Homo sapiens: one gene and its partners. The protein of the gene in region 1 purifies or fractionates together with the protein of each later gene. This does not show direct contact. Each region holds a gene or a part of one and is shown on either strand. Other genes may lie near its edges.

Region 1 (4,710 bases):
AAAGTTAGTTGATAAATTCCCTACTTTCTCACTCCTCAGACAGGATAACTGAGCCACTTGCCCTGACTTGTCCCTTAGGATTCCCCAGGGGGTTGAAGCTCCAGCTGCCCCCAGTGGAACTTGCTTGACAGTGCACCTCATGCTGGTGTCCTTCCCTTCCCTTTCTGAATTTCTTCCCTGCCAGTCCATCATGTTGTCACTGCCCAGGTTAAACTACCTGCACTTGAATCTTTATCTGAGGATCTGCTTAGGGGAGAACCAGAACCAAAATAATTCCAGAGCTTTCTGATCTGTTTGTGCCTGGTATACAGCTATCATCTCGAGGTCTCCTGAAGCAGAGGTCATTTCTTATCCAGACAGCATTGGGGTAGCAGCTTAACTAATGAAGAAAAAATTAACTGAAAGAAGATTCCTAGAGCTGAAGAAGCCAAAAGGGACTTTGCCCAAATGCTTCCTATTTATTGCTCTACTATGTTCTACACAACATACAGTCCCCACAGTATACCCTTTGTGAACAGGAATAGTTACCGTTGCTCCATTTTATCTTTTTCAAAATATAAACGGCAATTTTTGTTAGGATAAGAGTAAGACCCATTCAGTATAAGAATTAAAAAAAACAAGAAAAGTTTAAGGAAGAAAGTGACAATCACAGGGAATTTGAACATCAGAAATCAACATTGTAAATCTTTGTTCTGTATTCTTCTTGACATTTTTTTTTTCTGTAGACACGTACTTGACCATTCTTTAAAAAAAACATAATGGAATGGTTTCTGCTATTAACCTGCTTTTTCCATATATTATTTTCATACATTGTGGTCTATTTTCCATGCTAATAAATACATATAAGCAGTATATTTTTTAATGGTTGCATGGTATTTCTGTGTATTTATGTGCTATTATATACATGGTGCCATGAGTTAACATTCCCTTACAATCAACATTTAGGTTGTTTTCAGTGTTTTGCTATTATAAAGAATGTTGCAGTGAATGTCCTCTTTCACACATTTGTATTGTTGATGTTTCCTGAGGATGAATTCCTAGTCATGAACTACAGGGTGCTGTGGCAGGCGCATTGAAATTGCCCTTCAGAAAAGAAGTAGCAGCTTACACATTCGGCAATGCCATTACTTGCATGAAACAGATTCTTTAGTGACTTTCCTAAAGCAGTTGTTACTGATGGCCAGGGCTGGATTAGAATGTCATCATTTTATGTTCTACACAGTTCTACCAGCTGCATGCTCACTGTGGCTTACTGTAGCCAGAATCCTGTTGTGTTGCTGTTCATGTTCCAGAAAGCCAGGTGCCATTATTTTAATGTGAAGTGTGAAGATAGATACATTAAATAAGAATAATGGATCATATTTTATGTCAAGGAGGCTTAAAAGAGTGGGTAGTCTTAGAAATAGCATGATTTGCAACTCTGTAGTATCTCAAAATAGCTCACTTGCAGACATGCTAGGAGTTTTCTCTCTCTTTCCATTGTTGGGTAGTCATGATGCCACTTACTTAAATCCATATTGGGAACAAGGCTCATATTTTAAAAAGTCATGGTGACAGGTAAAGTCCCCTGTTGAAAGGTATGGACCTTATGAGGGGTATAGCCTTGGGTAAAATACCTAACCACCATGTACCTCAGTTTCTCCATCTGTAAAATATGCATAAGGATGGTAATTGCCTCAGAGGATGGTTGTGAGGACTTAACCAAGAAAATGCTTCCAAAGTGTGCTAGAACAGTGTCTGGCTCCATGACGTCAGTGATGAGTATTACTATATTAGGTAGCACCTGTTGGTGCTTACAAACCAGTGAGTTCATCAGAGTAGTCAGCTGACCAGGCTGGATGGACAGGAAGGATCAAGGTGGGGAGGCTGAGGGGGCAGAGGTACATAGGTTCAAACTGGGGAAGGTGTGGGGGATAAAGGTGAAGAAATGCTTAGAGACCCTGGAGAAGATGATGTTGGAAGGAGTTGCTAACCTGATAGGCTTGCTGTTATGAAAAAGTTTGAAAGTGACCATTAACAGGGATGCTAATGATATTTAAGAGACACATTTTCAGGAGTTACAACAATGTAAGTCAAAGGAGGAACAAAGTGATTTTCCCACTGTTAAGTGTAGGTCCGTTTGTAATCTCTTGAAAGCTGAAATCTTAAATTCCCAGCCCCTGACTCAAGTGTGACCAGTGTTACTTCCTGGGCAGAAAAATGGGAACTGTAAACCATTTCACAGGATGCAAATGGCATGGGAGAATATCATCAGGAACCTCTCAGTTGATTCTGGGATTGTGTACGTGACAAAATTAACAATGTTTCACAATTTAAAAATAAACCTCAAGATATCATTCGTGTTTTTATTATGCTTGTTTCTACTTGAAATTAAGCATTTTTAGCACCTGGAGCAATCAAAATTAAATTGAAGTTCATATTCATAAATCCATTTACAGCCCATTTCTCTACCCACCATAATTGCTGCCTCAGAGTCCACAAGTGCTGTGTGTGCTCTAGTAAGGGAATGTTTCCTAATGGGCTTTTCTTCTTTTTTTTTTTTTTTTTTTATTTTAGGAGTTGGAAAAACAACATTGATCCATAAAGCCAGTGAGGTTTTAAAATCCTCTGGTGTGCCTGTTGATGGATTTTATACCGAAGAAGTCAGACAGGGAGGGAGAAGAATAGGATTCGATGTCGTCACGTTGTCCGGCACCCGGGGGCCTTTATCGAGAGTTGGGTACTGATATTTCATTTCTGTGGTGTTCTATTATCTAAGCTCCCCTTCCATCTGTGCTTTGGGAGCTTTTCAACAAGAGCTAAATTCACCAAAAGCAGATACTCTGTTGGGTCCTTGGATGCCCATCTGCTTTCCCTTTAGGTTGAGAGTGTCTCCCTGGGCACAGGGTTGAGCCAAATGTTGTCATCTATCCTCAAGAATCTTAGGCCTTTAGGGATTTCTCAGAGAAAGAAAACAGAATGAAACCATCACATGAAAAAAGTATAAGAAAGTGATATTTTACTTAAAACTTGTTCACCAAGTCATAAACTCCTCTCACTTTATAATTCTTAGTCCTGTTTCTGGTGCCACTTTTCAAAGACTGTTGATGCAGTAGCTGCTTGGACCTTAAGAGATAGCCCTGCCATAACTGCAAGGCCCATTGTTGGAGGTGTGGACACTTTGAACAGGGTAGCTCTGTTCAAAGCAGAGAAAACCTGATCAGCTTTACAGACCACCGCATTTTGTGTTGGTCATTTTTAAGGATGATTTAGCATATGTGGAATGCCAGAGGCTCAGTGGAGCAGCTAAAAACCAGAAATCAATACAGGAGTTTTTCAACAAAGAACATAATGTCTTTTCCTTCAGGTTAGAGCCTCCACCTGGAAAACGTGAATGCCGAGTTGGGCAGTATGTGGTCGACCTGACTTCTTTTGAGCAGTTGGCACTACCCGTCTTGAGGAATGTGAGTACGTGATTTCTGCTTTTTGAACCCATCTGCTCTTAGTGTATTGTGGGAATTGCTAGCCATGGAAACAGAATGCCTTTTGCTCTTAAAGGCCCCAGTTTTGCATTTTACAATTGAAAAGATTGAGTCTTAATAAGGATAAACAACATAATTTGCTATCACTCTGAGCTACAGATAAATTCCTATAAATTCAGTACATATAAATATTTTATTTTGGAAAGGCTCTTGATGCCCAGGTACCAACATTCCCAAAGATAAGTCTTTCCTCTGTCTTCTCACAGTCATGTCTTAACCTGGTTTCACAGCACAACAAACATTTAGGAAGAGAAAATGTCATTATATGAACATAATAGCCAGTTGTTATTGAATGCCTACCAAGTACTGTAAGCAGTTAACGTATTATATTATTATATTACCTTTTTTAAAAAAGAAAAAAACTTTATTGACATCTTACGGCTTCTTTCTTTCTACTTTGAATGCCTTTTATTTCATTTGCTTGCCTAATTACCCTGGCTAGAACCTCCAGTCCAACATTGAATAAAAGTGGTGAGAGTAGACATCCTTATCTTATTCCTAATCTTAGAAAGAAAGTATTTAGTCTTTCACCATTATGTATGATGTTAACTGTGTCTTATTTGTATAGAGTTTACTCAGGCGTATTTTGTTGAGGATTTCTGCATCTTTATTCACAAAAGATATGGTCTGTAGCTTTCTTTTCTTGGGATATTGTTGTTTAGTTTTGGTATCAGGTTAATACTGGTCTAATAGAGTTAGGAAGTGTTTCCTTCTTTTCTAATTTTTGGAAGAGTTTGTGAATGATTCGTATTAATTTTTCTTTGAATAATTGATAGAATTCACTAGAGAAGCCATGTGGGCTAGGTTTTTCTTGGTGAGAAGCTTTTAAATTACCAATTAAATCTCTCCTTATAGGTCTGTTGATTTTGTATTTTTTTGTTGAATCAGTTGTGGTAATTTGTACCTTTTAGTAATTTGTCCATTTCATCTGAAGTATCTAAGTTATTGGCATATAGTTGTTCATAGATTCACCCATAATGCTTTTTATTTTGTAAGATTGGTGATATTGTCACTTCTTTCTTTATTTTAGTTATTTAAATCTTCTCTTTTTTCCTTGGTCAGTCTAAAAGTTTGTCAATTTAGATGATCTTTTCAAAGAACCAGCTTTTGTTTTATTGATTATGTAGTTTTATGTATCTATTTATCAGATATTTATCAAGTACTGCATATACAGTCATGAACAAAACAG
Region 2 (5,371 bases), on another chromosome or scaffold:
CTAAAAAAGCGATGTTTGAAAAAGGAGCTGAAAAATCAAGTTAAATCTGCAACTTGTGCTTTTCCAAAGGGATATTTATGCTAAAGTGAAGACTGAAATGTAAAGGTATGTATTTGGGTTTTTAAAACTTCGAGTCGATAACAAATATTAATTAAGAGAGACTGACTCTTCTCTCTACCCCCAATATATATTTTTTAAAAAGAAGAAGAAGGTTCCAAAGATTCTTAGAAAGGCTGTGAAAGTGTTTCAGTAGGTGGGAAGGAAGAGGAGGGTGTTTGGAGGTCTTCGGTTTACCATAACCCTCTTGATTTTGCCCGGTGGCAACTAGAAGAAAAGACAGACCTTGTGTAATTCCCTCCCACTCAGCCCTAGCTGGTGTGACTCTTTCTTTTTAAAAACAGAACCAAAAATAATTTAAGGATAGCACCAAACTGCTTATTTTTTTTTAATGGAGTCATTGGCTTATTACAAAGAAAACTGATCACCCTAGTATTTGACTCATTGAAAACAATTTGCACTGGGGGAGACTGAGGGCGGGGTTTGGGAGACAAACCATTATAAAACCTAAAGAAGTTCCTTACATTCGTTTTGGAAAGGACGGTGCCATGGGTGGGAGCCGGGAAGACACTTAGGGAAGAAATCGGCAACAGGTGGGCACATAGAGCTTGCCTGCTTTAGGTGTTTATCCATTAAAATAATTTGATGAGGATTGCAAGGCTTATGGGCTTTAAAAAACAGATGTTATTTTTCCTTTGCAAAAAGGCAAGAGCTTTCCCTAAGTGTTCATCAAGAAGTGTCCAGGGCGCGTGCACACGTACACACACACACGCGCGCCTTTACGCACCTTCACAAACCTCAGAAATAACTCATTGGAGAGCCCCAGATGTCAGCCGTTACCCCCCGCCCGGTCTTCCCCAACACAGGGGACCACAGTCTGGGAGCCAGGAGGGCAAGGCCCGCCCGCTCACCTTGGGCTTGCTGCCGCCGATGGCACCAGGACGTATGGAGCCAGTCTCCTGGTACCTGCACAGGATCTTGGAGACGCAGCCGTGGGACACGCGCAGCTGGCGCGAGATGACGCAGGGCCGGATGCCGTGGTGGGCCATCTCCACGATCTTGTGGCGGATGTGGTTGGGCAGCGGCCTGCCGTTGATAAAAACACCGCCGAGCTGGTTGACGCGGCCCTGGCCGAGGGGAGTGGACACTGTGGGAAGGTGAAAAAGAGAAGCAAGGGAAAAGTCACTGGAGGAAAATAAAAAGCAAAGAACAGCAGCACGTAATTTCGCAGTCTTCTGTCCTATCCTCATGTTACAGCACCGACGCTGAAACTGCTCGACATCGGACTCCCAGACCCAGACCTCCTTTCAATCACATTTGTTCAAATTATTCAGCAATATAGCGCATGTAATCTTGTGTAAAGACAGCAAATGGGGCAAAATAATTCTCCCCAGAGAAAGCGTCTTCCCCTTCGGGCCCGGGGAGTGGCAACTTAGGAGACCCTGCAGCTGGTAGAGAGTCTAGCTTGCTCTAGAAACAGCCTCCTGGCGAAGAGAAGTTCACCCAGGAGCTGGCCTTGATGAACTCTGCTCCCACCGATCCCTGTCCAATTGGGATCTCTCCCTTTCTAAGGGACTTGGGCCAGCTGATAGCCCTTGGGGTTTCTAGCCAAAAGTGCAGCAGCCAAGGGTCAAAGAGGGTCCAGAAAGGAGGCCCAAGCAGCAGTGCCTGTGTCACCTGTTACATCTTGGGACAGAGACCACAGCAGCGGCAGGGCTGTTCCTGGGCCCCCAGCCCCCATTCTTGCTCTGGGTGTTACATTCTACTCTAGGCTGGGTGTGAAGGGAGTGGGTGGCGGGGGCGATGAGCATCTCTGCTGGGGCGCCCTAACCTGGAAAACCATTGAAAACGGCTCAGGCTTGCAAGACTTCCTGCCTCCCCGGGATTCCCAGAATCTTCAAGTGGACGGAAAGGCGATTCCTAAACAAGTTATAGAAACTTCTAGATGCTATTTGAGATACATAGAATTCTAATTTATTTAATTATTCTAAAAATTCCAATCACAATGGCGCGGCGTTAGCCACCACAACTTTGCAGGGCAAAAAAAAAAAAATACTTCCTGAACTAACATATGTTTCACAAGTGTGGGCGCAGCCGGGACAATTTCGAGACAACTTCGAGACAATTTCGAATGGACAAATTGCGGAGAAGTTGCTTCTGCCGCTCAGAAGCCGGTTCACCTCCTTCTCCACCGCGGCATTTCCAAAACAACAGGGACAAGTCTCCCCGGCTCGCCGCAGGCCTGACCGCCCAGCTCCGCCAGGATTTGCAGAGAGCAGCGCGCTCCATTTGCAGAAAGGAAATCGAGTAGGTCCTCGCCCCCGACTGGTGCTTCTTGGGGTGTGGGGTGCCCAGGGAATGGGCTTCCTGGAAGCACCAAAGGAGCCTGCGGAGCCTGGGGATGGGGTGAGGCAGCCGGTCCCAGGCCCTGGGATCCAGGCGGCGCGCTGAGGCCCTCCCTTACCTTCCAGCGGGAACCCGCTACGCGGGTAGTTCTGCCCCGGGCCCGGCCGCATCATCCTGGGCACAGCGCCGGCCAGCGTGGTCATCCTGGGGGCAGCTTCGCTCGGAAATTATATCCAGGTGAAGGCGAAACGGAAAGGCGAGTGCGGCGCGGATGACCCTCGGGAACTATCCGGAGCGTGGAGAGCCCCTCCCCAAAACGGCTGGAGAGAGAGGGAGGGACGCGGGGAGGGGGGCTGTCGGTTCCTAGTCCAGAGGCCGGAGCTGGAACCCGGGAAAGGGGAGGACGGGGAGGCCCCGGAGTCCAGGATCCCGAGCCCAGGGCGGAAAAGTTTGGTACGAGTCTGGGCAAATGTTCCAGCGACTGGGGTCCCTGAAAAGGGGGCTCAGAGAGCCACGGCGAGCCGGGGAGCCTGGTGAGGCTGGAGCGCGGCCTGCCTGAGTCTCCTCCTGTGGTGACACCGAGTGCGGGGATCCGGGCTCGGGAGCATTTATTAGTTCTTTTACCCAAAGCTTGGTCAGGAGCCCTGAGCTGCGATTGGCCGACGGGTAGACCGTCCCGGGTGGCGGAGACACGCGCTGATTGGGCAACAGCGACCACTTTCTCTTCCCATCTCTGGTGGTGCCGAGGCCTCTGCTGGCCCCGAGGGGGACCCGCGCTGCGCCCCTTGCCCAGGAGAGAAGGTTGGCCCGGTGGAAACTGAGAGAGACAGCCCCAGGGAGATGGCAGTTGCTGAGGGCGGAGAAGTTCCTGTCTCTCTGTCTCTGTCTCTCTGTCTGTGTCACTCTGTGTGTGTGTGTGTGTGTGTGTGTGTGTGTGTGTGTGTGTGTGTGTGTGTCTTTCTCTGATCACTCTTTCCTTGACTTTCTATTTCCCTCTCTGTCTCTTTCTGTGCCTCTGTGTGTGTGTCTCGCTCAGCCTCTATTCCTCTTGTGATTTCCTGTGTCTCTCTCTATGTCTCATTTTTTCTACCTGTAGGTCTCGCTCTCATTTCTCTTGGCTTACTGCCACTGGAGGGGGCACAATTCCAATAAGAAGGCATCTGGGGCCCCAGACATATTTAGCTTTCCTTCCTGTGGTCAGTGCCCCTTGGCCTAGGCTTGTTAAGGGGTCCTCCCGATGGGGCTCCTCCTGGGAGGAGTCCAGGGTGCGCTGATGTTCTTTTGTCTTCTCCGTCCGCAAGCGGGGCTAATGTGAAGCACAGGCAGCCGTCGCTAGGCCCAAGCACTCGTTAGTTGAAGGCTGGGGGTATGGGGGAGGGTGCAGAAAAAAACCTGGCTCCTCTTCTTGGTGTAAAAACCGCTCTGGCAAGCTGCGGTTCTAAATCTCTACATATAGATCCCCGATGCGTCGACAGAGATGTGTCTGTATGTTAAAGTTTTGCCCGGGTTCAGCGTTTGTTCTCAGGAATTTATTATGGCATTCAGACTAAACTGCTGGAAAAATAAAAGGAACGAAGTCTTGGCTAGGAGCTGAAGTGTCCCCAGCAGGATATGACGCCAGGAGTGTTGTAAAGACTGTCTGTCCTTAGAGAAGGTACCATTGTGCATAGCCTTTTATTTATAACTTGGTAAGTGCCAGCGAACTCGCCTCCTTTACACCCCCGAGTGCCAGCCCCGCGCTCTGCACTGCGCTTTATTCGCTCGAGCCTATTCAGGGACTGTCACTCCGGGGCCGCGAGGTATTCAGGGCCTTAATCAATCAAAAGGATGAGAATCGGGCAGGTTTTTCCCTTTGAAATAAAGGAAACAATGACTTCTGGGCTTCAAGTTCCCCCTTTTCCTTTTATGATTTTTGAATTTTTCCTGCCCCTGGAGGGAGTTCTCCACTCCTCTCTCTCTGTCCCCCTCCCCCACCTCCTTTGACAGTTTTGACGTGAACTCGGGCCCCCAACCCTACTTCCCCATTCCCTAATTAAGGCAAACTCAGAAGGCAAGATGTAGGGGGGTGTGGGGTATAGCCGCTCAGCAGTCCACAAGTTGGCCCTTTAAAAACCCACTCACCATTGGGGAAACCAGGCAAGCTTTCAGCCTGCCTGATGCCAGAAGGCTTGGTTGACCCTCAGAGCCACGGAGACAGGTCTCAGGAGACTCCCAGAAATGTCTGGACCCATGAAGGAGGCATGTGCCTTGTTTAACCTGGTTTTACATTAAATGATTCAATTTTTCAAGGGGAAAATTTTCTCATTTTCTTTTTAAGGCGTTGGGGCCACCAAAGCCTGTGTCCGTACGTTTTAAGCCACTTCTCAGCGATAGCATTTTGAGAGCTAGACTTTTTCCAAGTTTTCTTCTTCCCAAAGGTTAAGCAGAGTCGACAGAGCACTTTCTGGGGTCAGCGGTAATTGCTGTGTGAAGGAGGTACCAGAAGTGTAATTTCAAGAAGGCAAAAGTAGGCTCAACTCTCAGCTAAAATAAACTCTTGGACCCCGCGAGCAGTTAAAGAACATCTAGAGCTGAGTCTCATTTGTTTTTGAGCCGGAGGCTTGGTCTCCAAGCCCTCCCAGCGTCCACCCGTCTCTCTCCTGCCGGGAGTTTTCTCTCCTAAGAGCCGGCAGATGCTGGAGGGAAGCGCTTGCTGCAAGATTCCTTCTCCCGGTCCCGTAGATTGCAGAGTCCGCGGGACCGTTGAACGGAGGTACTGCCGGCTGAGCTGGGTCTTAAGTGCCCATGGGTTCATAAACTAGCTGTCACTTGCTATAAACATGTACAAATGGAGGCCACAAGGATGTGGGGGTGCTGGGGACCTAAAGCTCCGGAATCAGGAGGCGACTCATTTTCTCTCCTTTCCGGCCTCTTTCTTTTCTGCCGAGCGCTCTGAGATTCATATGTACCCAGATGATCAGCCCGGCCC
Region 3 (4,340 bases), on another chromosome or scaffold:
CTTATCTCAGTTCAGTAGCTAGTATACAGAAATGTCAAGCTCCAAAACAAATCCCCCACCAGTGGGTGAAAAAAGCCTTTATATCAATTGGTGGTATACTCAGTGCTAATTATTAACTAGAGACTTAAGGGAAATCTCACATTCACAGAGCCCTCAAATACCTCTATAAAGAAATGTCCTAGAGAAGTCTGCCATTAATCAGTTCAGGAAGCTAGACCCAAAACAGAGCTCTCTTGGAAAGTGGTGGCAGCGAGGAAGAACCACCACCACCACCACCACCACCACCACCACCACCACCACCACCACCACAAAAAAAAATCCTACTTGTTCAGCTGCACTGGCCATTTTCAGAACATCATTTTTTTTCTTTCAGAATATCTAATTAGCCAGAGGTTTTCCCTCCCCAACCCTTCTACAATATGTTTGGAAGTATGAAAGTATATTTTATATCCAACTTTTAAAACAATGCTTATATTTTTCTGATTATAAGGGAATACATTCTATCTGTAAAAAAAATTACAAAACATGAAAAAGTGAAATTACTCATAATCTTATCATTCATAAGAAACCTCTCTCAATACTCTGGTGCAATTTCTTAACATCTTTGTCCTTTGAATATATATGTATATGTTTGTGTTGTACACAATCACACAATACACAATTTTGTATCCTGTATTTCCTACTTAAATATTATGTACACCTTCCCATATTATTAAAAATTCTTCTATAACTCTATTTAAAATTTATAATACTAAAATTTTTACTATTTTAGTTATTTAATTATCATTATAGTTATAATTACTTAGCATTTACTCAGGAATATTACTATTCTGGATACCCTACAGCAAAATGTTTATCGGCATCATCAGACACATCTAACAGACAACACTAACGGAGTATACACTCTTCCCTATACCCAGGGTTCTAAGTAATTTCAGTTTCTTTCCTACTCAAGAAAACCCATAGGATTGAAAATAAGGGTGAGTGAAAATACCATTATTACAGAGATAGCCGCTCAAATTCACAATAGGGAAAACTGAATTACCGTAATTCTATACTTATCTATTAACTAATAGGCAAAATTTTTGAAGCAGAACTCACAACTGATATACATCCAGACTCTGCAGTTGAGAGCTGCTAGCTCTACAAGTATTGTACGGCTCAGTGATTCACATATTAAACACATAAAATACAAACTTATTTACAGTATTCAACAATTAATTAAGAGGCTCTAAAAGAACATTTGAAAGCAAGAGAACTCTTTCCATTTCTCTTTTAACTTGAAATACTTTATTGTTAATATAACATAATAAAAGTTGAGCTATCTTTTTAAACTTAAGTTATAGCAAATTTCAAACAATTTCAGATTATTTTGAAGCAAATCCCTAGCAACATATCATTTCATCTGTAAATATTTCATGTATTCAGCTAACATTTAAAAAGTAACTTTATAAATCTTAACAGACTACACAAGACTGTGATCATATTAAAGTAGTAAGAATGTGACTGACTTTTCCTCCTCCATTTTCAAGCATTCTATATTATTTATATATTACTTTATAATTAAAAGCATCATTCCATGTCTAAGAAACTGTAACATTATAGATTTTTAATTTTCTTTATTGTGGGAGATATTTCCTGACTATAACATAAAATTTTATAAAGTAACCTAACAATTCCAAAAACTAAAATTTGCAATACCTACTGGAAGTAACTTGTGGTTTTCTGGAAGTGAAATGGCAAGGTTCTCTAACCCTTCATAATCCTCTAACATATAGTAACATTCAGCTAAGCGTTCCTGGTTCCGTCCTTGTACATAATATTGTACAGCATTCAACCTACAGAAAGAAAAAAGGAAAAACTTTTAAAACTAATGTGAATCTCCTGATAAATAAGCACTTTCAACCAAAATGTTCCTTCATCATAATTCCCAGTACTAGTATTACTGTTCATTATCTTCAGCTTCAGAATAACTTTCAAACATATAAATGGGGAAAAAAATCTAAAGCATATTCTAGTTGTAACATTCCTTGACTATTCTTAAGAAATACCACCGCTTTACTCCCAAACACTGACATAAATAAGCATACTAATCAAAATGAAAAGAAAAGCCAATGATTTCTGAAAATAATATATAATAAAGCAAATAAAAACACTTATTAAACTTTGTTCAAAAATAAAACATAAAACACCTTAGAATTATATACTGTAGGCTCAAACAGAAAGCTGCATGGAGCTAAGTACAAGTTTTGTGTTTATACACTACAAATTTTTATAGTGCTCATCTCACAACTTCACAGGATCTCCGGCTTTCCAAGATGAATCTAGAGCTATCTGAATTTTAGAATTCAAGAAAATGATCTTCATTTCCCCAGGATTACTTCCTAGAGAAGTACTCAGGCAGCTACTAAGTGTTGCATGAATGCTTGAGGAGCTCCAGGTAAGTTACATACCACTTTTGTCGATCAGCAAAGTAGTCTCCAATGGCATTGTTGGCTTGTTCCAGGAGACTGTCATCTGCATCACCAGATCCAGTTTTCAGGAGCTGGAGTACTCTAAACCAATCCCCCAATTTCAGCCGGAGGCCAATAGCAAGATCCCTACAAACAAAGGCATTCATTCATTCATTCATCTATTTGACAAATATTTACCAAGAGCCTGCTGTGTGTTAGGTACAGTTCTAGGTGCTGAGGCTACACAGCAGTGGACAATGTGACTCTCCAAACACTTTAGGAACTTAGCCTGACTAGCTAAGAGGAAATGAGGAGCACCTGGAGGTTATGGTTTGAATGTGTGTCCCCTCCAAAATTCATGTTAAAACTTAATCTCCATTGTGGTAGTATTAAGAGGTGGGGTTTCTGGGAAGTCATTATGTCTGCCCTTATGAATTGATTAATGCCCTCATAAAAGACTCCTCAGAGAATTTGCCCCTTTTGCCCTTTTCACTTTCCACCATGTAAAGGCATAACATTCAAAGCACCATCTTGAAAGTGAGACAGGGCCCTCAACAGACACCAAACTTGTTGACGCCTTGATCTTAGACTTCCTAGTCTCCAGAACTGTGAGAAAAATATTTCTGTTCTTTATAAATTATCCAGTCTCAGGTATCTTGTTATAGCACCCCAAATGGTCTAAGATACCAGAACAGGGAAAAGAATGTTGTGCCTTTACTTTCCTGGACTTTCAATTTATTTAGCAAAATAATGATTTAAATAACAATCATTTCTTTTCAGCAATTTCTTAGATGTGATCAGGTTTATTTCAAAACAAAACACAGTGTTAACACATGTGGTTTTATATGACTTTTCAGAGCCTAAGTCATATTAGAGATCTCCTGGGAGTATAAATAACATTAATGAAGATGAGATACAATCTTAACAGCTGAAATGAAGTTCAGACAGACTCTCCGCCTTGTGGTTCAGTGGCTAAGATTATCTGCTTTCATAGCAGCTGCCTGGGTTTGATTCCTGGCCAGGGAGACAGGCCTTACAGTTCTTTAATTCAAAAGAAGAAATATTTATGAAGTTCATACATTATTTTATATAAATCAAAAACGAAATATAAAGAACTAATCTCGATCCCTAACGACTTCTGATTTTTATTTTATGCCTCTTGACAACATAAAATTAAATAATGGCCTAAACAAACAAAGAAAGAAAGAACTGGAATAATGAGCTATGTCTTAAATATAAAAGATCCCAGTCTCTGTTGTTCTATCATTTTTTCCCATCAAATGAAAAAAAAACCTCCCAGAGTCAGCCATTATTAGATGTAAAAACAGAGAAGAAAACTGCCTCCAGACTATGAAACACAAATGAATGAGAGGCATGTAGAATATCTAGGTTGTAATCCAAACTTAAAATTAATTTCTAAAAGGAACCATATGATACACCTAACGTATTTATAGTTTCCATTTGTAAAAAATACAATGATGAACTGATAGAGTACTCAGGGATGCCTGCGCCTTCATAACTTACCTTCTGTCCATCTCGAGATACGTTCTTTCAGCCTCTTCAAACCTGCCGAAGTAGCCAACAACTTCAGCCTGTTTCATTGACTCACTCAGTAGTTTGCCCAAGCGCTTCACAAACTTAATGCCTTGGTAATCTTTGCAGCGCACAAATGCTTGCTCTGCAGTGTATAGATCCAGTTTCTGAAGAGCTGCTTCAGCCAGTAGGCGCCTTTATTTTAAAAGAAACAAAAACATAAGTGCATATTGCAAATTACTGACAAACTAGTCTTGAATCACAATTCAATTATCATTTATGTCTATTATTTCTAGAGAAACATGGTGGAAAGTAACATATGCAAACATTTTTCAAATAATTTTCTGCTTATTT
Region 4 (4,710 bases), on another chromosome or scaffold:
TTTTATAATATACATTTTGGAATAATAGCAAGAATCATGTTAAATAGACCATTTCCTGTTTATAACTATGTTGTTACCTTAATCAAATTACTCTCGTTATTTTCCATCAAGATATAAAATGAAAATAATGACCAGGCACAGGGGCTCACACCTGTAATCCCAGTACTTTAGGAGACTGAGGCAGAGGATCGCTTAAGCCCTGGAATTCGAGGTTATAGTGAACTATAATCATTTGAGCCCAGGAGTGTGAGGTTATAGCCAAGTATAATCGCACCACCGCACTCCAGCCTGGGCGGCAGAGCCAGACCTTGTCTCAAAAAAAAAAAAAAAAAGAAAAGAAAGAAAGAAAAGAAAATAACATTTCTTATTCACCACTTTAGAATTCTATCTTTCCCTTTTTTACAATCCTATATCTACCCAATCACTCAATTTATCTAGCTATAACTTTGCTGCTTTTCTTTTTTTGAAACAGGGTCTCTCTGTGTTTCCCAAGCTGGAGTACAGTGACACAAACATGGCTCACTGCAGCCTTTACCTCCCGGGCTCAAGTAATCTTCCCACTTCAGCCTCCTGAGTAGCTGAGTAGCATGTGCATGCCACCACGCCCAGCTCATTTTTTTTTCTTTTTTTTTTGGTAGAGATGGGACCTTGCCATGTTGCTCAGGCTGGAGTGCAGTGGCGCGATCTTGGCTTACTGCAACCTCTGCCTCCCAGGTTCAAGCGATTCTCCTGCCTCAGCCTCCCAAGTAGCTGGGATTACAGGCATGCACCACCATGCCCAGCTAATTTTTGTATTTTTTAGTAGAGACGGGGTTTCTCCATGTTGGTCAAGCTGGTCCCGAACTCCTGACCTCAGGTGATCCGCTTGCCTCGGCCTCCCAAAGTGCTGGGATTACAGGTGTAAGCCACTGCGCCCAGCCACTTTGTTTCTTATCAATACCTTCTTGTCCTCTCTGTCAATCTAAAATAATCTTTCAAAAGTTGATCATACAAATTATGTCTCGATTCCAGATGTGATTCATTTGTAAAGGTGCGTGGCGAGTTTGTTTTATCAAAAGGCAGGGTTCTTTATAGGACTGAAGAAAATCTGCTAACTTAAGTATGATTATATTTAATGTAGTATATGAAAATGGTATTAAAAGTAAAATTTTAAATTTTACCGTCCCCTCAACCACAGCAAAAAAATTGAAGTTAACATTACCCATGCAGTGAATAATGAGTTGTATTTCTCACTTTAGAGAGTTTATTATCTGTTCAAAATAGATTGAATAATCTTGTTATAGACAAAAATCACAAATAGTAATTTTACTTTAAAAAACTGTATAGTGGTATTTTGCTCTCTTTTTTAAAAGTAACTGTGTTGCCATGGATTGGGATAAAGATGGAGATGTCCTAGCAGTGATTGCTGAGAAATCTAGCTGCATTTATCTTTGGGATGCCAACACAAATAAGACCAGCCAGTTAGACAATGGCATGAGGTAAGATAACTTTTTAATTTTTTAAAGCTTCACTTAGAAACATGAATATTTGTAGGTTTGGTGCTAACAATTCTTTACTACTTTCATTTTAAAGATTCCTCAATGAGTTATTTTCATAGAAAAGGATTATTTTTATTATTGTTACCCAATTAGAATGAAATTGTTATAACTGTGAATTATAAATAGCTTCTTAAAAAGTTGCTTTCAGTGGAACAGACTAAGAAGTGCAGAGATGAGACAAAATATATATGGGAAAATCCAGAGATGGGCTTGACCATAGGCATGGCTAGATCTAGGAGTTATAATGGTGCAATCAAGACTTTTTCTCCATCTCTCAGCTCCTCTTTTCTCTATATTGACTTTATTCTAAATCAGATTCTCACCCACGACTACTGGTAGCTATCAGTATGTATCATTCTTCACAGCAAGTCATGCCAGAGAAAAGAGCATGTGCCTTGACATCACCAGAGCCCATTCAGTTCCTCAGCAGGTCTCTGAGTGGAGTAGGCAGGGCCATGGATTGGTACTCCCACCAAGTGAAAGGAAGAGCAAAGGGCAGGGCAGTTCCCAAATGGAAAAAAATCTTGGGCAGACAGAATAAATGACAGATATCTGCTAAAAGAGAAACCAGTTTCCAATATGGAAAAGAAAAACTTGTCAGCATTTCCAACTAAAACTTTGCCATTTTGACCTTGGACAAATTGCTTAACCCCTCTCCAAGCCTCAATTTCTTCATCTGTATGACATGGGTATAACATGCTTCATGGCTTCATGTACCCCTCATGTGGGGAGGAAGAGATCATATACACGCTATGAGACCAGACTATAAGTTTTCAAGTTATTTACTAAGGAATAACTGAACCCAGAGAAAGCAAGGCAGTCATGTAGCGCAGGATCAGATACAACCTAGTGAGTGTAGTGCCTTTGACCCTCCAAAGTGACCGTTGAGGCAAGTAGCTGCAGAAGATACTGTCTACCAATGTAAAGTCTTCCTGAGTCTAAGAACCTTCATTTCTTGCTCTGTCCTCTTACACTTTGGGTTTACATCACTTTTCAGAAAGATTTTATATACTCTCTGTGCTTCCATTCAAGGGAAAGTTTAATAAACTTCAAGTACTGGTTCTTGAGCCAAATTCAGCAACAGTAAGGCCATGTTCTCACTCAGAGCAAAGTGCATAATTAATCCCCTGGTGTTTCTAACTGGTCTATCTCTGCCTCCAGCTCTCTGTCTTCCCACAGTGTCTGTTTCTCCACATCATCTCAGGATTGTTGTGATGTTTAAATATATGTCATGGCCAGGCATAAAATTAAGACCCAAGTAAATGGTAGATGTTATCGTAATTGTCATTAAAATAAAATTAAGGTTGCTTTACTGTTGATGTTTATATTTAATGTCTAAAGGACTTTTGTATATACAAAAGCATACCCACTGTTTGTTCTTTATTCAAAGGTCAATCTGTTACACTAGCTAGTTATTAAACAAAACTTGGAATATCAATTTTTCTTAAGTATTTTTATTTAAGAAGGTCCTGTTGTACATGACCACCTTGCTTCCTCTGGGTTGTTATTCCTTAGTAAATAAATGCTTTTAAGCAATTTAGGTTTTATAAAATTTATCTGAAGTGAGTCTTTTGAGCACTTCAAACACCTGAAATAGTACCCAAAACCTATCCAAATGTAATTATCACAAAACTTACTGTGGTGCCACTTAACTAAAAATATATTAATTCAATGAGCTGAATTCATTTATTTTTGCTATGTATGCATTTATACTCTTTTAGAATTATAGCGGTATTTACTCTGCTCCTGCCTAGGCCTAACAGAAGTAGTCATTTAATTATGTAACTGGGATATAGCCATTTCTTTCCAGAGAAAACCCTATACATAACATCTGCTTCATCAACCAGTTCATTCTTGGATGGATCACAGAACATGGTTGCTTCTCCCAAGGCAATTTGGACCTGAGTACTAGGTATCCTACTCAGTGTCTTTTTAAATTGACCTTGAGTTGTCGTATTAGTAAAATTCTTTTAAGCCCATGCCTTATACATAGGTTGCAATTTTTTGTAACCTGTACATTTCCCTAGCATGATATATTCTTTAAATTTTGCTTGGCCAGAGATACATGTAATTGTTATATGTTGTCCTGATCCAATGGCATTATTGGAAATTTACATATGCTTTAGTATCATATTGTAATTTGCAAGGGTTTCTACGGGCCTTATATCCTAAGAGAATAGGGATGGAGTCTGTTCAGTTAGCTCTTCTTTTGAGAACATTTGATTACTTGATCTTCTTAGAACACATTATTTAACACTTTCTTTCTAGTTGGTTGTTGAGTAACTGTCAGTGCTGATAAACTATTGAATGGACTAATGTTATATTTATCTTATTATATATGATCACTGTTGCTGATCAGATCTTGTTCTTGTTATACAGTTTTCTCTGATACTATTTTTAGCTCATGCAAAATTATTTTTATTCATATTTTCTTTGAAGGAGTCTCCAAGACAGGATTAACTGTGTAAGAGATTTCTTACAGGAAATGCCTATGAGGGAACATAGAGAGGTTAGAAGAGATTGGAAGAGCTGTTAGACCTCAGTGCATGTCTGACCCTTATAAATGAGAGAGGGAAAGAAGTAAGGTTGGGAAGAAGTGTCTTAAATTGTAGCACAGTTGTTTTTTGTTTGTTTGTTTGTTTGTTTGGAACGGAGGCTCCCTCTTTTGCCCAGGCTGGAGTGCAGTGGCTTGATCTTGGCTCACTGCAACCTCTACCTCCCGGGTCAAAGCGATTCTCCTGCCTCAGCCTCCCAAGTAGCTCGGTGCCCACCACCACGCCCAGCTAAATTTTGTATTTTTAGTAGAGATGGGGTTCCACCATCTTGGCCAGGCTGGTCTCGAACTCCTGACCTCAGATGATCTGCCCACCTGAGCCTCCCAAAGTGCTAGGATTATAGGCGTGAGCCACCGTGCCCAGCCCATTAAATTGTAGCACAGTTCTAATTAAGAAAGTTCAGCTAGGTCTGTGGGGAGTCTTTGGGCAAAAGTTACCTGTCAAAGGAGTTCTGCCCAGGAATGGGCCCAGCAGTTATCCCTCCCTCACTCAGTCATTGTCTGGGAACAGCCCATGAGAAAGCACAGCCCAGCTCATTGAGGTGATGGATTCCAAAGCCTAGCAGCTGGGGCTCATGGGCAGTTACACTTTCTGCAAACGGAGGGAAATCTGAGAGG
Region 5 (4,710 bases), on another chromosome or scaffold:
GCTCCATGGGGGCATCACTGAGACATTTAATATCCCAATAGGTCACCACCTTTTCACAGCCCTGCCCACCTCTGTCCAGGCCATATCCCACCCTGAGCCTATCTAAAGTCCTGGCCAGTCTCCCTCCAATGAGAGGAGAGAGGGGACCCAGGGGTGGAGGGTCACCAGGGAGAACAGGTTCACAGGACCACCTGTGAACAGGCAGCCACAGCTGTCCTGGGCACCAGATCCTCCAGCAGCCAGGGAACAGGAGGTGGAGATACCTCCTGTGTCTCCGGGATGGGTGGAGATGCGTGGAGGCTATGGGGACAAAGGGATTGGACCAGAGAGTTTTAAGATCACAGTAGGGTACAAGTGGCTAGAAGGATCCAGGAGATGGCGGGGAAAGAGGATGAGAAATCTGGGTAGGCAGGTTGACCCCACCCCTCCACCTGATGGGAGGCCCTCGCTCCAGCCCAAGATGTCTTCTCTTGTCTCTGTCCCTAAACTCTTGCTTGGTCTTTGGTTCTCCCAGTCCTGCATGCAGCCACCACCAAGTGGTTCCTGTGTATGGCAGGATCAAGGAACGACAGGAAGGGGCCTAGGTTTGGGGGTGGAGCCAAGTGGGGGCAGGGGCGGGGCCTGACCTTGGAAGAAGGCGCTGAATTCCTGGGGCAAAGCAGCAGGAGGGAACTTGTATTTGCTCTTCTCCTTGGAGCTGATGACTTCCCTGGGGGCAGTGAGGCCAAGTACATCAGCCCGGCTCTCACCACTCCTGGCCGTCACCCCTCCTTGGGCCCAGCGCGGCCATCCTCTCCCCACCCTCCTCTGGGTTCCCTTCCTGTGGGCTGGGTCTCACCCACTGCGCTGGCGCCGCCAGGTTTGGTAAGGGTCAAAGAGGCCCTCGCAGAGAAGCAGAGCATGTAGGGCCACATTCTCCAACTGCGTGCCTCGGCCCTGGGGTGGTGGGCATCCTTTCAGCTGTAGGTGTGGGGAGAGAGGGTTAGCCCCGCCATGGCTACCGCCTGCCTCCCTGCATACACCCTCTGCCCCCCAAGGTAGAGGCCACTTCACCTCCGCCACCAACTTGGTCAACAGTGCCAGCACTCGGGGCACTAGCACTTGGCCCCGGCCTGCCTCTATGTTCTCCAGGTTCCTGGGGGAGTCAATGATGAGAGAGGTCACAATAATACACCATGCCCCTCCTTGTCCCCTCTCCCTCTGGCCCACAGTTCTAGGCCCCTGCTTGTAGAGTGGACAACAGAGACACCTGCAGAGAATGATGAAGAGCTTGAGCAGCAGGAGGGCTTGCTCCAGGTCAGCCTGGTGCAGCTGTTCGGCCAGCACATGCAGCTCATCCAGTGGTAGCAGCGGGACCTCTGCACCTGCCTCCTCTGGCCTGCAAGGAAAGGGGAGACACGGGTGCTGAGGACCCCTCAATCTCCCTGCTCTGTCCCTGCCCTCAGTGCAGATCCAGCCTCACCTTCGTGGCTCCAGAGAGGACAGTGAGATGCTCTTCTTGAAGGCACCTACAAAGGCCTTCAGCCACTGCTGCAGGTAACCCAGGTCCTTCTGTAGGCAGAACAGGGGAACAGTGGTGGGGGGCAGGAGGGATGCAGTAAACAGGGCAGGGACAAGGGGATGTAGACAGAGGCGAAGAATGAATGGAGGTGGACAGAGGGCATGGACAAGGGGTTAAAGGCAGAGTGGAGGGTGTGGAGAAGGGGAGTGGGGGACGGGGGAGGGAGGGCAGGACATTGGAAGGTCAGCATCAGAGAGTTAGGTACATACTGACCACTTTTCCAGGCACCCCACTGCTTCTCTCAGCCTCCCAGTTTCTGCTCCCACCTCCCTAATGCCTGCAGTCCTAGGCAGGTCTGACACAGCCAGGGGAGGGGCGTAAGTGGGGTGTGGCTGTGGCCCACACTGGTGCTAGGGCTGGAGAAGGTGTCCCACACAGCAGCCACCCCCTACCAAGAGCCTTGGGCTGGGTCCTCATCTGCCATCTTCACCCAGCCCAGCAGCCACCACCTTCAGTAGCCTTCTTTAACTGTGGATCCCAGGACACACGTGTACCATTAGACAGGCAGACCCAGACATGCGCACATCCTCATGTGCGGCCCTGCCTTGCCCCGGGAACCTCCACCCACCCTTGCTGGTTACCTGGACCCCAGGCCCCAGAGCTGGTTCCATGGGCAAGAGGGGCAGTGGCTAAGCCCAGGTCTAGGCGCTGCCAGGAAAACTTTGGTGTGAACGGGAAATGTCTCCTCCCGCCCCGGGGCTGGGGCAGGAAGCGCAGAGTCACGGTGGGGGAGGGGGACCGCTTCCTCCCGGCAGACCGCAGGGATGTGGGGGGGCCGGGGCACCCTGGGCCCCAGTGAGAGAGGCTGCAAGCGACCTGGCCTGCACAGAGGGTGGGACCTGTTACAGAGGGGTGGAGTCACCTGTCCTGGGTGGGGCTTGTGGGCCAAGACTAGTTTTACAAGCATGAGGTTGGCGCCTGGAAGAGCTCTTATCCAGGTGAGGGTTCTGATCCTGCTGCTGCAGTACCCTTCACTTAAGGCACCCACAGCTCCCTGACCTGCGCGCAAGGCCTCAGGCCACAGGGGTCGATGTAGAAGACTCAGCCATACCTTTGTCCCGCCCCGCCGCCCGCCATGTCCTGGCCACCTCATCTGAACTCTGCAGTTCTCTTCGCTCAGGAACACAGCTGATAAATCCTAGCCTAGCCCGTATCTGCTCTAATCTCTAAGCCCCTCCCAGGGGCCAGGGGTGGGTTGTGGCTTATACAGGAGCTCCTCCAGGCTGGCCCCATATGGAGCTCCTAACCAGCTGAGTCCAAAAGGCAGCCTTCTTTCCTAGAGTCAGAGAGGTGGACAGGGGGAGCTAGAGTGGAAAAGGATGAAGAGGCAAGGGACACATCACAGTCAGCACTCAGCAGGCCTCAGGCTGCTCCCCAGGGGCCATGGGCCTCATACCCAAGGACCTCCAGAACTATCTTTGGATGGATGGCTAATTTTTGCAGCCTATGGGCCCAGACCACGGGCAAGGCCTGAATGGCCCCAGGGCAAGAGGCCTGACTGCAGCAGACCTGAGCCAGATCCCCAAAAAACCTAGGCAGAGCAGCCGTCCACCCTGTGATTGGGGAACTCCCTGGTACAGTTTAGTGCAGATCTGAAGCCCAGACAACTCAGAGAGGTGCCAGGGCCACCATGGTGCAGACCCACACAACCATGACATTTTGTCTGTCAGTTACATTTATTGACCTCTCCACCCTCTCCTGCTGGCAGCCTCCTCCCGAACAATCAGCAAGGAGCCCAAAATACCCAGATCCTGAGACAGCAGAGGTGGCCAGGGGCCCTGGACCATTTCTTCTGAACCTCTCCCATTGCAGATGGGGAAACAGGAGGCCCCACAGGGGATGCCTTATCTACTACTTTGTCTTCAGTGTACCTTTGAGGATGCTAAAAGCCAGACCTTAGTTCTAGGCCAGGACCACTCATGATTGCTAGCAAGCCAGCCCATGAGGACCATGCGGGCCCCGATCCTTGCCTCAGTGGCCCCACAGAGACCCCTAGCTGCCTTCAAAAATGTCCCAATACTGTCTTCCTCTCTTCTGCCCCTCAGTCAAGCTAGTCACTCAAAATGTGAGTCTTCCTGCCAGCTGCAGCTCTACTGAGCACCTGAAAGCCCAAATTTGACCGTGTCTAACCCCTCCCCATAAAGGCTCAACTGCTGAGCAGCATTCCAGGCTGCTGGTCCAACCAGAACCTGCTTCTCCAGCTTCCACCTCTCCCCCTCTGTGGTTCACATCCTCCTATCCAGGCCTTTTCCCACCCTATGCCCCACTGCCTTGTGTGACTTGGGCTTTTGGTACTTGAGCAGGAACCTCCCACCCTCCTGGTGGCCATCACCTTGATCAGCCTTCCCAGCACAGGGGTGGGTCCCTCAATCTCTACATACTCCTAGAGTATGTAGATAGTACTTTCTGTCCCTAGAACCACACCCTTGGCCTGTCCAGTCCTGTAAACTTTCAGCAGATTGGGCTGAGCTGGGTTCAGGGCTGGGACAATCAAGACAGCCTTCAGGGGCTCTGAAAGGGGATGACGAGGTCTCCAAAGCACAGTATTAGGCAGGGGTGGGGTGGCTGCCTGTCCTGCCTCCCTGGGTCTCACTGTTTCTCCCTGGAAGACCTCAGGCCAACTCTGACCTAGGCCCCATGGCTTGAGACTGCAATGTGTCGGGGTACGGGAGTCCCTCAGGGAGCCAGGGTCAGAGGGCAGAGAATGGCAGGGGACGAGAGCATGGTGGCAGTGCTGCATGTGAGGGTCCAGGGCCTGGGAGGAGTGGCCATGATGCTCAGGCTTCCCATGCCCCTCTCAGAGCTTCTGCCTTGGTCGGTTGTGCCAGCTCTGAGCAGGAACACGGGTCAGGGACAGTCCAGCCCCTTGCCCCAACCTAACTGGGTCAGGGCCCCAACCCTGTCCCCCACTGAAGGCAGGTCGGGAGCAGCCACACCTGCCAAGCCCTCTCCAGGGTCCATAGGTAAGTGATGCCCAGGTCCTGCAGCAGGGGAGAAGGTTGTGGGAATGTGGAAGGCCGGTGTCCCTGGGAAGAGGGGGTCTCATGTGCACCACCACAGAGACCCCAACTTATGCCCAACTAGCTGTGAGGGCACTTGAGAGTGCTGGGGGTGAGGGGCTCCCGAGGGCTGCTTAGGCTCAAACAGTC
Region 6 (4,710 bases), on another chromosome or scaffold:
GCTCTATATCATCTGTTATTATAGGCTGTGTACCTCTATTGCATTTCTTCACATTCCTTTCAAAACTAAATAACCCCACTCACATTTCTAATCACCCAACAGTATTATTTTTGTAGGCTACAGATCAGAACTATAGGGAATATTTCAGAAGGATATAATGAGTGCTCAACCAACCATAGTCATTCCTTAACTTAGAACTGACTCCTTTACTAATACTAGAGTATCTAGTTGATAGCTTCAAAGACCTTTCCAAAATCTTCCCAAGGTCTTTTACTGATTGGAAATAGGGAAGACTGTTCCAATTAGCACCTATTCCTACATTTACTTCCTAATTATTTTCCCATGTGTCTACATGGAGTTGTTCCTTTCAGCAGCCTTGGCCAAAGCATTTTGATAAATGACAATGGAATGAAAATACAGCATTTGCCTCTCTGGGATGCTCACGTGTCTTACTCCTACCCATTCTAAAGAGCCACTAAAACCCACGGAAGGACATTGTACCTCTCACAGGATATCACAGGCTGTAATTCTAAACACATAGCATGAATGGTAGAATCTAAATCCACAGAAGTGTCAAAGATGCTACACCTTTATCACAGATTCAGCTTCCTGCTACTATTTCTTGGGTCTGTTCATTTCTTTTGCATTACTGTCAACTGTATATATAATTTGTTTTTTTTTCACTCACTTGTATAGTTGAGCTAATATCCTTTTTTCGGAAGCCTCTCTTACCATTTTCAATTCCTCTTAGAGTAGTTTCTGGAAAAAGCAGAATCTTACAAGTTTCAGAATCTTACAAGTTTGTCCTTTGATAGCTCAGTAGGTTCCTTTTTTGCATTCATTATTCTTCTTTACTCTCCCTTTTAGTATCTGTTCGTGTTTGTCTCTGTATCTTTATGTGATGCTGAAATCCTTTGGACTAGATTTCCCCTCATTACTTAAAATGTTTTATACCCATTATGCCATGAATTCATGGACAATTGATTAGAGCAGTTCAAACTTTTCACCACTGTGTCTCAAAGTGGGCTTTTCAAGGTAGAGTCGTCCAGCATATCAGTTCAACCCATTTAACTTTCTTTTTAGCCTCCTTCTTTTTCTATATACTTTATACAATTTGGGGCAAGATCTTGGCTCTTCAAAATACTTGATATTTTTTTAAAAGCATATTAATGTTCCCGGTAAAACTCTTGCCCTTATGAGGTTTGCTTATCTTACAACATTGCCCACAGCCTAAAACTAGAAGGGTCCACAGTGTCATTCCCTTCTAACAATGACACTGTAGGTTGTTCCAGTTAACCCTAGTTTTACCTGTGTGGACCACCACCAGTAATACCCTGGCTGCCTAGAACGTCACAATTTTTAAAAGATTCACATGAAGGTAGCTAAAGGAATATCCTCCCCTTAAAAGTAAAAAAAAAAAAGAAAAGAAAAGAAAAAGTCTTAGATAATATGTATAATAATAATTCTTATCCTCTTTCCTTCTGTGTTATTTTGACAAATTTCCAAAAGATCATGGTTCTAGTCAAAAGGCTAATGCAGATTTCAAACAGAAAGAGGTGCTATGGTGTCTCTTAATGCTAGAATTACTACTCTCATTGTGATCCTTAATCCATTACTTTTTTAGCTCCTTGAACATTGAAAGTAAAATTGATCCCCCTAACCCAAAATGAATGGTAATGCCCACCTTCATCTTCACTGCTATCAGATTCAGGAAGTTTGATTCTTCTCCTCTTTTTCCTCATGTTTTCAGTTTCCTTTGTCTCATCATCAGATAATGCTACTCGCTTCCCCCTGTTGCCATCCAGAAATAAATTAAGCGTGTTACACAGAACAAAAATGTAAGTATTCACATGCTCTTATGGGTTTTGCTTTATAACTCGTGGTCTTAATTCCAGAGGGTAGAAAAGGACGGCCAAATAGTCCAAGAAGGACTCTTGTTAAGGATACTCTGCTAACTGACCACAACTAAGTCACTTCATGAGGTGACTTGAATAAAAAAGTTCTAGAGTTCTCTAGAGACTGCTGGAAGCTACAACCAGGTTATCAAGAATCTTTCCAAATTCCTTCTTACTTCCCTGATTGGCCTTTCAATTATCCAACAAGCATTAAATAAGCAGCTACTACATACATACAAGGCTCTTTGCTAGCCATTGAGAATGCAACAATACAGAAGAAAATACTGTTTTCAAGAAGCTCTGGCAAACACCACTGGCTATAAGGCAATGTGGTAGATTTAACTGGACAAATAAAATGTTATGGAATATAATTCATATTTGGAAAACTTAAAAGCTAAGTAGAAGTTCATCATGTAGAAAGGGGAAACATATTTTAAAGAGAAAGAACAATATGAGCAAAGGCAGAGATATCCTTTTAAGGTGATTCTAATGACATAATAATAATAAAAAAAATCCTAGACTCCATCATGACATTATTTAGCTCCTCTGGATGAATGGATACTCCATCACACTCCTCATGCAACCAACAAGTAATTTATCAAAGGCCTACTGAATGTTAGAGAAACAAATATATACAAGACATAATCTTTGCCATCAAGTACCTTATGTCCTATATAACTTTAAATACCAACTTTCCTTTCTACCTTGAACTAGAAAAAGAACAATTAAACCCAAAGTAAAAGGAAACAATAAAGATAAGAGCAGAAATCAGTGAGATAAAAAATAAGAGAAAATTAACAAAGCCAAAGTTGTTATTTTTGGGAGATTAATTTTATTAATAAGCCTTTTATAAAACCCATTTTGAAAACAGAAAAATATAAATTATCAATCAGGAATGAAACAGTAAAGAAATCTGTATCGAGTACAGGTTCTACAAACTCGAAGAATAAAGTTATATAATGAACGGGTTTATGCCAATAAACTCAACAATTTAGATCAAATTTTGACTGAGTTTTAAAAACACAACTCAGTCAAAACTGATCCAAGAAGAACTAGAGAATTTGAACAGCTCTAGTTAAATCAAATTCACAATAAAAACCTTTCCCACAAATAAAATCCAGCCCTGGATTCACTGGTAAATTTTATTAAACATTTGAAAAATATACACGTATATATAAACTCCTTCAGAAAACAGAGGAAACTTCTCCCAACTGCGGTCATGGATCACTTAATGACAGGGACATATTTTGAGAAATGCATTGTTAGGTGACTTCACTGTGTGAACATCACAGAGTATACTCACACAAACCTAGATGGTATAGTCTATGCTCCTAGGCTACAAACCTGTACATCATTGTTACTGTACTCAATACTGTAGGCAACTGTAACACAACGGTATTTGTGTATTTAAACATCTAAAAAGAGAAAAGATACAGTAAAAATACTGTATAAAAAAGATTAAAAATGGTACACATGTATAGGGCACTTACCACGAATGGGGCTTTCAGTACTGAAAGTTGCTCTGGCTGAGTCAGTGAGTGAGCGGTGAGTGAAATGTGAAGGCCCTAGGATGTTACTGTACACTACTGTAGACTTTATCAACACTGGATACTCAGGCAACACTAAATTTATTTTAAAATGTTTTTCTTTCTTCAATAATAAACAGCTTACTTTAACTGTATTTTCAATTTTATAACTTTTTGGCTCTTTTGTAATAACACAGCTTAAAACACAAAAAATTGTACAGCTGTACAAAAATATTTTCTTCTTTATATCCCTATTCTATAGGCCTTTTTCTATTTTAAAAATTTTTTATTTACTTTTTAAACTTTTTTTGTTGAAAGCTAAGACCCAAACACACATTAGCCTCGGCCTACACAGGGTCAGGATCATCAATGATCATTGTCTTCCACCTCCACATTTTGTCCCACTGGAAGGTCTTCTTCAGGGGCAGTAACACACATGAAGCTGTCATCTCTTATGATAACAATGCCTTCTTTTGAAATATCTCCTAAGGGCTGCCTGAGGCTATTTTACAGTCAACTTTTTTTATAAGTAGAAAGACTACCCTCTAAAATGATAAAAAGTATAGTGCAGTAATTATAGTAGCATAGTCATTTTTATTATCAAGTATTATGTATATATAACTATTAATATATATGATATACTTTCACATGACTGGCAGCACAGTAGGTATATTTATACCAGCATCATCACAAACACGTGAGGAATGTGTTGCGCTACCATGTCATGACAGCTATGATGTCACTAGGCAATGGGAATTTTTCAGCTCCATTATAATCTTACGAGACCACTGTCATATATGCAGCCCATTGTTGACCCAAACATCGTTATGCAGCGCATGAGTAATCTTATGAAGTTAGCACAATTTTGACACAGCAACTTGATAAAGACATTACCAGAAAAGAATGTAACTGACCTGTAGACCTCATAAACACAGGCAACAAATGCTTAGTGTAATATTAACAAATCTAATCCAGCAATATATAAAAAAGGATAATACATCATAACCAAGTGGAGTTTATCCCAAGAACACAAGGTTGGCCTAACATTTTAAAATCAGTGTAATTCACCACATTAATAAAAACACCATCTGAGCATCCAATCAATTCAAAAAAGCATCTGTCCAAAATCAATACCCACTCATGATAAAACCTCTTAGCAGACTTGGAACAAAAAACAACTTCCTCAATCTGGTTAACGGCATCTATTAAAAATCTACATTTATCATCACATTTAGTAGTGAAATACTGAATGCACTGCTGGCAATAAGTATCAACAGTGAGTGACGTAC

What was found.
Region 2: the proteins of NTPCR (region 1) and PAX3 purify together in Homo sapiens (affinity purification with mass spectrometry; one large-scale study listed by BioGRID and IntAct). This does not show direct contact.
Region 3: the proteins of NTPCR (region 1) and WDR35 purify together in Homo sapiens (affinity purification with mass spectrometry; one large-scale study listed by BioGRID and IntAct). This does not show direct contact.
Region 4: the proteins of NTPCR (region 1) and WDR19 purify together in Homo sapiens (affinity purification with mass spectrometry; one large-scale study listed by BioGRID and IntAct). This does not show direct contact.
Region 5: the proteins of NTPCR (region 1) and NBEAL2 purify together in Homo sapiens (tandem affinity purification; one large-scale study listed by IntAct). This does not show direct contact.
Region 6: the proteins of NTPCR (region 1) and POLD3 purify together in Homo sapiens (tandem affinity purification; one large-scale study listed by IntAct). This does not show direct contact.

The regions. Positions count from the first base shown.
Region 1 is NC_000001.11:232,953,001-232,957,710, forward strand, and holds part of NTPCR (cancer-related nucleoside-triphosphatase), read left to right. Parts: intron 1-2,556; coding exon 2,557-2,719; intron 2,720-3,346; coding exon 3,347-3,443; coding exon of another isoform or gene 3,444-3,447; intron 3,448-4,710. UniProt on the Homo sapiens protein: Has nucleotide phosphatase activity towards ATP, GTP, CTP, TTP and UTP. Hydrolyzes nucleoside diphosphates with lower efficiency.
Region 2 is NC_000002.12:222,296,010-222,301,380, forward strand, and holds the start of PAX3 (paired box protein Pax-3), read right to left. Parts: upstream 2,990-5,371; 5' UTR 2,607-2,989; coding exon 2,522-2,606; intron 2,365-2,521; exon of another isoform or gene 2,138-2,364; intron 1,205-2,137; coding exon 969-1,204; intron 1-968. UniProt on the Homo sapiens protein: Transcription factor that may regulate cell proliferation, migration and apoptosis. Involved in neural development and myogenesis. Transcriptional activator of MITF, acting synergistically with SOX10.
Region 3 is NC_000002.12:19,933,766-19,938,105, forward strand, and holds part of WDR35 (WD repeat-containing protein 35), read right to left. Parts: intron 4,182-4,340; coding exon 3,978-4,181; intron 2,601-3,977; coding exon 2,454-2,600; intron 1,839-2,453; coding exon 1,706-1,838; intron 1-1,705. UniProt on the Homo sapiens protein: As a component of the IFT complex A (IFT-A), a complex required for retrograde ciliary transport and entry into cilia of G protein-coupled receptors (GPCRs), it is involved in ciliogenesis and ciliary protein trafficking.
Region 4 is NC_000004.12:39,188,304-39,193,013, forward strand, and holds part of WDR19 (WD repeat-containing protein 19), read left to right. Parts: intron 1-1,352; coding exon 1,353-1,478; intron 1,479-4,710. UniProt on the Homo sapiens protein: As component of the IFT complex A (IFT-A), a complex required for retrograde ciliary transport and entry into cilia of G protein-coupled receptors (GPCRs), it is involved in cilia function and/or assembly.
Region 5 is NC_000003.12:46,985,510-46,990,219, reverse strand, and holds part of NBEAL2 (neurobeachin-like protein 2), read right to left. Parts: intron 2,231-4,710; exon of another isoform or gene 2,173-2,230; coding exon of another isoform or gene 2,143-2,172; intron 1,859-2,142; exon of another isoform or gene 1,775-1,858; intron 1,552-1,774; coding exon 1,463-1,551; intron 1,379-1,462; coding exon 1,250-1,378; intron 1,136-1,249; coding exon 1,054-1,135; intron 961-1,053; coding exon 839-960; intron 710-838; coding exon 627-709; intron 552-626; exon of another isoform or gene 1-551. UniProt on the Homo sapiens protein: Probably involved in thrombopoiesis. Plays a role in the development or secretion of alpha-granules, that contain several growth factors important for platelet biogenesis.
Region 6 is NC_000011.10:74,626,298-74,631,007, reverse strand, and holds part of POLD3 (DNA polymerase delta subunit 3), read right to left. Parts: intron 1,794-4,710; coding exon of another isoform or gene 1,792-1,793; coding exon 1,685-1,791; intron 1-1,684. UniProt on the Homo sapiens protein: Accessory component of both the DNA polymerase delta complex and the DNA polymerase zeta complex.